Linked DNA regions of Homo sapiens. The protein of the gene in region 2 purifies or fractionates together with the protein of the main gene of each other region. This does not show direct contact. Each region holds a gene or a part of one and is shown on either strand. Other genes may lie near its edges. The genes, in order: SMC2 and ZNF3.

Region 1 (3,822 bases), on a different chromosome or scaffold from region 2:
GTTATCAAAAAGTTATGAACCAAATAGTTTTACCCTATAAATAAGTCACCTTAGGGGAGAGCCTTAAAACATCAAAGTATTTAATTCTTTTAGCAGCACATGACTTTTCAAGCTAACCAAATTTTAAATTTTTTAAAATTAAAATCAACTTACTTCTGTGTCTACTACAACATTGTAGAGTCGTTCTCCAGCCACTAATTCTAAAGCTGTGGTTGCAGAAGTGTCTTTCACACTAATCAGAGAAGCCACAAGTCCTTTCACACAATTTCTATTCCAGTTCTTCTCTGGATCCCTGAAATACAAAAGTTGACAAAAATTAATCTTAGATAATAAAGTAGAAAAAGTTATACTTTACTCATCAGGAGCTCTTTTGGACAACACATTAAAGTGAAATGAAAGTAGAATCAGCAAAATGGTTTTAACAAACCAAAAATTTTAAAATGTCCCAAATGACTAGCCAGCTGTTGTTTTTAAATCACAATAGATCTTTCAGTATGTTTCAATGTAGTAAGAACAACTCTGATGTTCTAATCCCTATAATACATATGATTACTGTAAATATTCCATAAAAAACCCACATAGCAAAACAAATTATAAGATGTAAATGTGGATATTTAACATTAATGATACAGTAACTCTGAAGACATTTTGAACTGAGATTAAATTTCCCTCATTTTAAGATTAGTGGCATCATTAGCCATTAAATTTCACAAGAATTTCCCTGCCAACATTTAAAACATTTCAACAAATGTTTAAAGGAAAAATACCAATGAAAGAAAAGCAGCTTACAACAAGTTTCATACAAAAATCTTGGTTTCGACAAAATTTTCACACTGCTTCCAGCTTAAATAAAAATGTCTTGATTATTACTATGTTAAAATTCAAGGCTTAAGTCTCTTACTTGTATGCAAATCGAAGATTGGGAAATCTGGCTAATAGAGCTTCATATGTTTCTTTCAATCTACCAATATCACGAGACAGCTGCCTGCGCTTTTCCAAAAGGCTTTCCTCTTTATTTTCTGAAGGATAAATCATAATAAATTAAAACCAAGTTTTAAAAGCTCACTCTACTGTTTTAAGGAAAATATTAGCAACCACTATTTCCAAAGCATGCAAAAAATACAAATTTCTGTAAGTATTAAAAAAGCATGCTGAACCTTCCTATTTCTATCCACTGTCAAACAGACATTATTTCCAACGGCAAATAACACAATTTTCATTCCAAAAAATAACATACAAACTGAATGCCTAATGTAGAAATACACAAATGACATTTTTGAGCTTTCAAATGATTGAAGCAGGAAATTCTCAATACTGAGTTCTCAAAAATTCAAGAGTTGTTTTATAATTAGGTATTTTTTGACGATATTTACAACACTTCTTATACTAATGCTTGTTAATAGGCTAAGAAATGTTTCCTACTTGCTTGCGTTCTTTATTTAAATTAGCTTTTTATCAAAAATCACTACCTCCTCATGATCTGATTATCATGTTTTTAAAGGCAAACCTTCATAATTTAGCTTTTTCATTTCAGCTTCAAGTTTTTCTTTAAGTCTTTTTACAGCTTCTAGAGCTTCTTGATCCTTCCTGTAGCCACTATCCATCTTCTTAACTTCAGCTTGTTTATTCTTTAATTCCTGTTGAGCATGCTTCAACTTCATCTGAGCCTGTGGCAGAAAAATGCAACAGACCATAGGATGTATGAGGCAGACAGTGCTAGTAATTAAATGGCCGAAGATTCAGATTGGTTTTACTAAGAGACCTTAACCTTCAAAGTTTAATTGTTTGGTCTCTTGGATTAGTATTTCAACAAATTAGTCATTTCCCAGTATTTTCTCCTCAAAAAACTACTCAAAGTATAAACTAATATATGATTAATATGTAAAAGAATTTGAAATTTAAGTCCGTATTTTTAATAAAATATGACATATTCAAATTGAAGGATTATATCGAATAACTGTCAGTAGCTGGTAATTAAAAAAAGAACGCTAGAAATCACAACTCTCGTTCTTTTCCTTTCCGCTTAGTTGTTCATATTTGTATGTGTATATATTTGTGAGTGCTATCTAATAACAGTAAAGAAACTGAATTGAGCAATAAGACGTAAGATTATACAGGAAAAGAAGCTAAACTGACAGAGAAACTTAAATGCTGAGTCTGATAATTAAATGCTAGAACTATTTAAATTACATGTGTCAGGCCTTCAAGAATTTATACACTTGAACACTGCTTCTTAAAACTATGAACTAGTATTCTAAAACCTAGATGGGGTTTTAGATGGGGGTATCCTCCAAAACTGTATAATGATGTATTTTTCCCAGTTCCCTTATAAAATAATAGACAAACTGAGAGTAGAGTACTTTAAAGCTTTTCTACTATTGAGAGTTCTTATAAATTTGTGACTATCATCTGTCATGCCTGAATGAAAAAGTTGCAAATATATAAAGAGAAAAACCTGAGGATTAACGCATAATCACACACATTTGTGTACATGTTTTAAAATCTGTGTCTTCCATTAAAAACAAAACAATGATGTGCCTGTGTACATGTATTTTTTCTGCTAGCAAAATTCTTATGTTCATAGGACTGTAAGTTGCACTACTATGTAAAATCTGAGAAACATTATAATAGACTGACAAGACTTTTAAGATTATGAAATCAGAGTAGGGAGAGCAGACTAGAATGTGGCTACATGTGAGGTAGAGATACTTCCTAAAAAAATGTAAAGTTTGAGAAACAAGGTTTTAAGAACTAGGTATGGCAGGCAAAGCAATGGGGAGGACAATCCTGTTTTCCTGTTAAAGCTTAAGACTTCAACATTATGTTATCAATAAAAAATAAAAATAGCCAAAAAGAGACAAGAATAAATGCATTAATCTCGAAAATTCCACACAATGCTGCAAACAGAACAAAGCATTTATTGCACTTACATACCGAATTAAGATAATTTATGTAGTACAGCATCTTCACAAATTAACATCACCAATATTTAGCAATCAACATATTTGAATTTCGCTGCATTAGGCATTAGAGTTGCAGAATAAAGTAAACAAACAAGTTCCTTGAGACTGATTATTTTCAACATTATGTAACAATTGCCAAAGCATAACATGAAAAGAAACTTCTTGGAAAAAAAAGCAATCACATAGTGCTAATGTCTCTATTTACCTGTTTGGCTTCTGTCTGAGCTTTACTTATATCATTTTTACAGGCCATCATTTGACCAGCAAGAGTTGCTTCTGCTCCATCTTCATTACTGGACAGGCCAGCGGAAACAGCATTGAAGTGCTGCTGTGCAGCTGCCAGAGCTTCAGCATCTTTATTACTTGCTTCTTGAAGGGCATGCAGTCCATCTGTTATCTTTTTAACCTCTTTTTCCTTTGCTGCTAAAGTTTTTGAGTCCTTTAGGAAGAGTTTCAAATGGAAAAATATTATATTTCAGGAAAAACACCCACTTTCTTATACGCATACCCTTATGTAATAAAATTCCATAGCAATTTGGAGTGAGCATAATAAAATAATTTAACCATCATAACTTTATAAATACTGAATTATCATTTTGAAATTCACTCTCAGTTTTTAGAATAAATATAACTCTTATACTACTGGTTCATTCCATGTTATAAATTAAATCCATGAGACATTGGGCTAAATAATAATTGCAGATTTAAACAAATCACTTGAAGGGACTAAAAATGAATTTCTAAAGCTGTAAAACTGAAATAACAGACATCCTACACTAGCTTAAAAGTAGAGATTTTAGAATTAAGAGCATGTATATGAAAATATTTTATAAACTGTCAAGAGCCATAAAATTTGAGC
Region 2 (3,822 bases):
AGCTTTAAACCCTGATCTCCTCCATCAGGCCCATGGTTCTGTCCTGCTGAATCATGGACCCTCACCTTCTATCTTGGACTCCTGTCTCTCTTCCTCCACCCTGTCCTCCCTTCCTCCCTTCCCAAATGTGCATTTTTCACCCCATCCTCAGTGATTTTTTTGGTGCCGCCATTCACATTCCTCACCCTGAAATTGCATGCCAGCACGTGTTGTTTCAGGAGCTGGTAACCTTTGAGGATGTAGCTGTGTACTTCATCCGGAAGGAGTGGAAGCGTTTGGAACCTGCTCAGAGGGACCTCTATAGAGATGTGATGCTGGAGAATTACGGGAATGTGTTCTCACTGGGTAAGGAGTTATGCCTTGTCAACAAAACTCGCTGGTGTTTCTTTGCTTCTTCGTTTGCTAGTAACAATCTAGTCACTGAAAAGAGCTGTTTCAGCAGATTTTTTTTTTGAGGTGCAATGGCACAATCTTTGCTCAGTGCAACATCCATCTCCCAGATTCAAGTGTTCCCAGGTTCTCACCTCTGCCTCCCAAGTAGCTGGGACTACAGGCACGCACCACCACACCAGGCTAATTTTTGTATTTGTTTTGTTTTTTTTTGTTTTAGTAGAGACGGGGTTTCACCATGTTGGCCAGGCTGGTCTCAAACTCCTGACCTCAAGTGATCCACCCGTCTTGGCCTCCCAAAGTGCTGGGATTATAGGCATGAGCCACTGCACCTGGCCTAGGTAAGGATTGACTTAGTCTTAGGAAACTGTAAGAACAATAATCTTAACTCATTTATACAGCAGTCTGCAACTTATAAAGAGTTCTCATATATATTCTTTCATTTAATCTTCACAGTAACACATTAATTGAGGCAGCTAGTATTATTCCTCATTTTACAGGTAAGGAAAGTGAAAGTAGTCCAGGCGAGGTGGCTCACACCTGTAATCCCAACACTCTGAGAAGCTGAGGCAGGAGGATCACTTGAGGTCAAGAGTTCAAGACCAGCTTGGGCAACATGGCGAGACCCTGTCTCTACCAAATATCCAAAAAATTAGCCAGGCATGGTGGCACATGCCTGTAGTCCCAGCTACTTGGGAGGCTGAGGTTGGAGGATCACTTGAGCCTGGGAAGCCGAGGTTGCAGTGAGCCGAGATGGCATTACTGCAGTCCAGCCTGGGTGACACAGACCCTGTCTCAAAAAATAAATAAGTAAATAAAGTGGAGGTGAGAGTAGCGGTCTCAATGTCTTGTGCATGCATGGTCATCAGTTGGGCTGATGAGTGGCAAAACTTGGGGCCCAGTCTTTAACTCCAAATCTGGTACCTTTTTTTTTTGAGATGGAGTTTCACTCTTGTTGCCAGGCTGGAGTGCAATAGCGTGGTCTCGGCTCACCGCAACCTCTGCGTCCTGCGTTCAAGCAATTCTCCTGCCACAGCCTCCTGAGTAGCTGTGATGATAGGCATGCGTCACCACACCCAGCTAATTTTGTATTTTTAGTAGAGACGGAGTTTTTCCATGTTGGTCAGGCTGGTCTCGAACTCCTGACCTCAGGTGATCCACCTGCCTCGGCCTCCCAAAGTGCTGAGATTACAGGCATGAGCCACCGCGCCTGGCCAAATCTGATACTTTTTCCGTGTTATTCTCAGGACTTAATATATAATCCAGAGACTTTTCCGAAGGATTATCCCTGAACACATGAGGTGCTGCTCTTTGCCCACGTCTCTGTCCTCTCCTTCTCTGCTTCTCTGCTCCCCTTCTCTAACTTCTAGGGACCTGTTGCTTTGTTCAGGACCTAGTGCCCCTGCTGCTCTGTAGAAACTTAGAAAGGTTAAGAAATTAGGCCAGGCGCGGTGGCTCATGCCTGTAATCCCAGCACTTTGGGAGACTGAGGCGGGCAGATACTGAGGTCAGGAGTTTGAGACCAGCCTGGCCAACATGTTGAAACGCCATCTCTACTAAAAATACAAAAAAAATTAGCTGGGGGTGGTGGCATGTGCCTGTAATCCCAGCTACTTGGGAGGCTGAGGCAGGAGAATTGCTTGAACCTGGGAGGTGGAGGTTGCAGTTAGCCAAGAACACGCCACTGCACTCCATCCTGGGCGATAGAGTGAGACCTTGTCTCAAAAACAAAAACAAAAAAAGAAAGATTAATAAATTAGTTTCTCAACTTTTAGGATGTAGAATTCCTTGTCTCTCACCCCACTCTTAGTGGGCATTTTCCTGAGCAGAGCCAGGACGTCTTCCTAACTCTCATTTGAGACCTTCCTGTACATTTCCCTTCTGTCCCCGGCAGATCTGGGGTCTGGAATTGAGCTCTGGGACTCTCAGGGTGAGCAGATAAACCTCCTTGTCCCATGTCTCTCCCCATGAGCAGAATTCCCATTTCTGAATCCTGCCACCATCTCTCTGCTAGAATGAGAGGAAGAGCCAAGGGGCCTGGGTTTCAAAGGAACTGAGAGCAGAGAGGTCCTAAGAGGTACCTCTTCAGGTGAAGGAGAAACAGCCGTTCCCGTCCCTAACACACATTACCCTGTCTTTACTTTTTAAAATATCAATTAAGCTAAAAACGCAAACTCTCTGGACCCTTTACATTTATCCTCTGTGCCCAGAGTTGGCTTTAGAAACTCAAAAGGAGTGAAAACAGAGACGTCAGACACTGAGATTCTTTGCATAGCCTTACGTGCGAGCATAGCCTTTTATGCATAGGGCCCAGAGGCGGACTCAGTTGTCTTGCCGTTTCCATGGGCTTGGCATTTGTGGCGTGACGACAGCCATGATTGCTCTTCTTATGGGGCCATGGCAGCCACTAGCATCCTCCCCCTTGCTTGTTCCCGCGCTGCTGCTGTCTCTCCTCACCCTTCCCCCCTTTTCTCACCAACTGTCCTGTACTTGCTCTCCCTTCTTGCAGTCACTGTGTCCCCAGTTATATCCACTGCCCTGACCTCTCTAAAGGCTTTGTCACTTCATTAAGCAATATGACCTTCCTCTTCTAAAGTTGGTTCCCTGCCTCTCTGCCTGATCCGTCCTCCCCTCCACACACACTCAGCTTTCTTTCCACTTCCAGCTCTGTTCTCCTTGGTTTTGCTCTGCCCTGCCCCTTCCCTGTCTCCTTAGCCCGGCTGTCTCATTTTGCCTTAGCCGCACACATGTGGGGCAGGCCTCTTTGTAGGCATGTGCTTTTGGCACTGTAAGTATTCGTTACAATGATCCTGTCCTGTGATTTTCACTCTTTCTTCCCTAAGGAACAAGTGACATTTGCATTTTTTATTGTGTCAGATCGTGAGACCAGGACTGAAAATGATCAAGAAATTTCTGAAGACACAAGATCACATGGGGTCCTACTGGGAAGATTTCAAAAGGATATTTCTCAGGGTCTCAAGTTTAAAGAAGCCTATGAACGAGAAGTCAGTCTGAAAAGGCCGCTGGGGAACTCCCCTGGAGAAAGACTGAACAGGAAAATGCCAGATTTTGGTCAAGTGACAGTTGAGGAGAAGCTAACCCCCAGGGGAGAGAGAAGCGAGAAATATAATGATTTTGGGAACAGCTTCACTGTGAATTCCAACCTTATCTCACATCAGAGACTCCCCGTGGGAGACAGACCCCATAAGTGTGATGAATGTAGCAAGAGCTTTAATCGAACTTCAGACCTTATTCAACATCAGAGAATCCACACTGGGGAAAAGCCCTATGAATGTAATGAGTGTGGGAAGGCCTTCAGCCAGAGCTCACACCTTATTCAGCATCAGAGAATCCACACTGGGGAAAAACCTTATGAATGTAGTGATTGTGGGAAAACCTTCAGCTGTAGCTCTGCCCTCATTCTGCATCGGA

What was found.
Region 1: the proteins of ZNF3 (region 2) and SMC2 purify together in Homo sapiens (co-immunoprecipitation; one large-scale study listed by IntAct). This does not show direct contact.

Annotation. Positions count from the first base shown.
Region 1 is NC_000009.12:104,111,161-104,114,982, reverse strand, and holds part of SMC2 (structural maintenance of chromosomes protein 2), read right to left. Parts: intron 3,403-3,822; coding exon 3,169-3,402; intron 1,668-3,168; coding exon 1,508-1,667; intron 1,020-1,507; coding exon 902-1,019; intron 293-901; coding exon 154-292; intron 1-153. UniProt on the Homo sapiens protein: Central component of the condensin complex, a complex required for conversion of interphase chromatin into mitotic-like condense chromosomes.
Region 2 is NC_000007.14:100,071,658-100,075,479, reverse strand, and holds part of ZNF3 (zinc finger protein 3), read left to right. Parts: exon of another isoform or gene 1-53; coding exon of another isoform or gene 54-218; coding exon 219-345; intron 346-3,267; coding exon 3,268-3,822. UniProt on the Homo sapiens protein: Involved in cell differentiation and/or proliferation.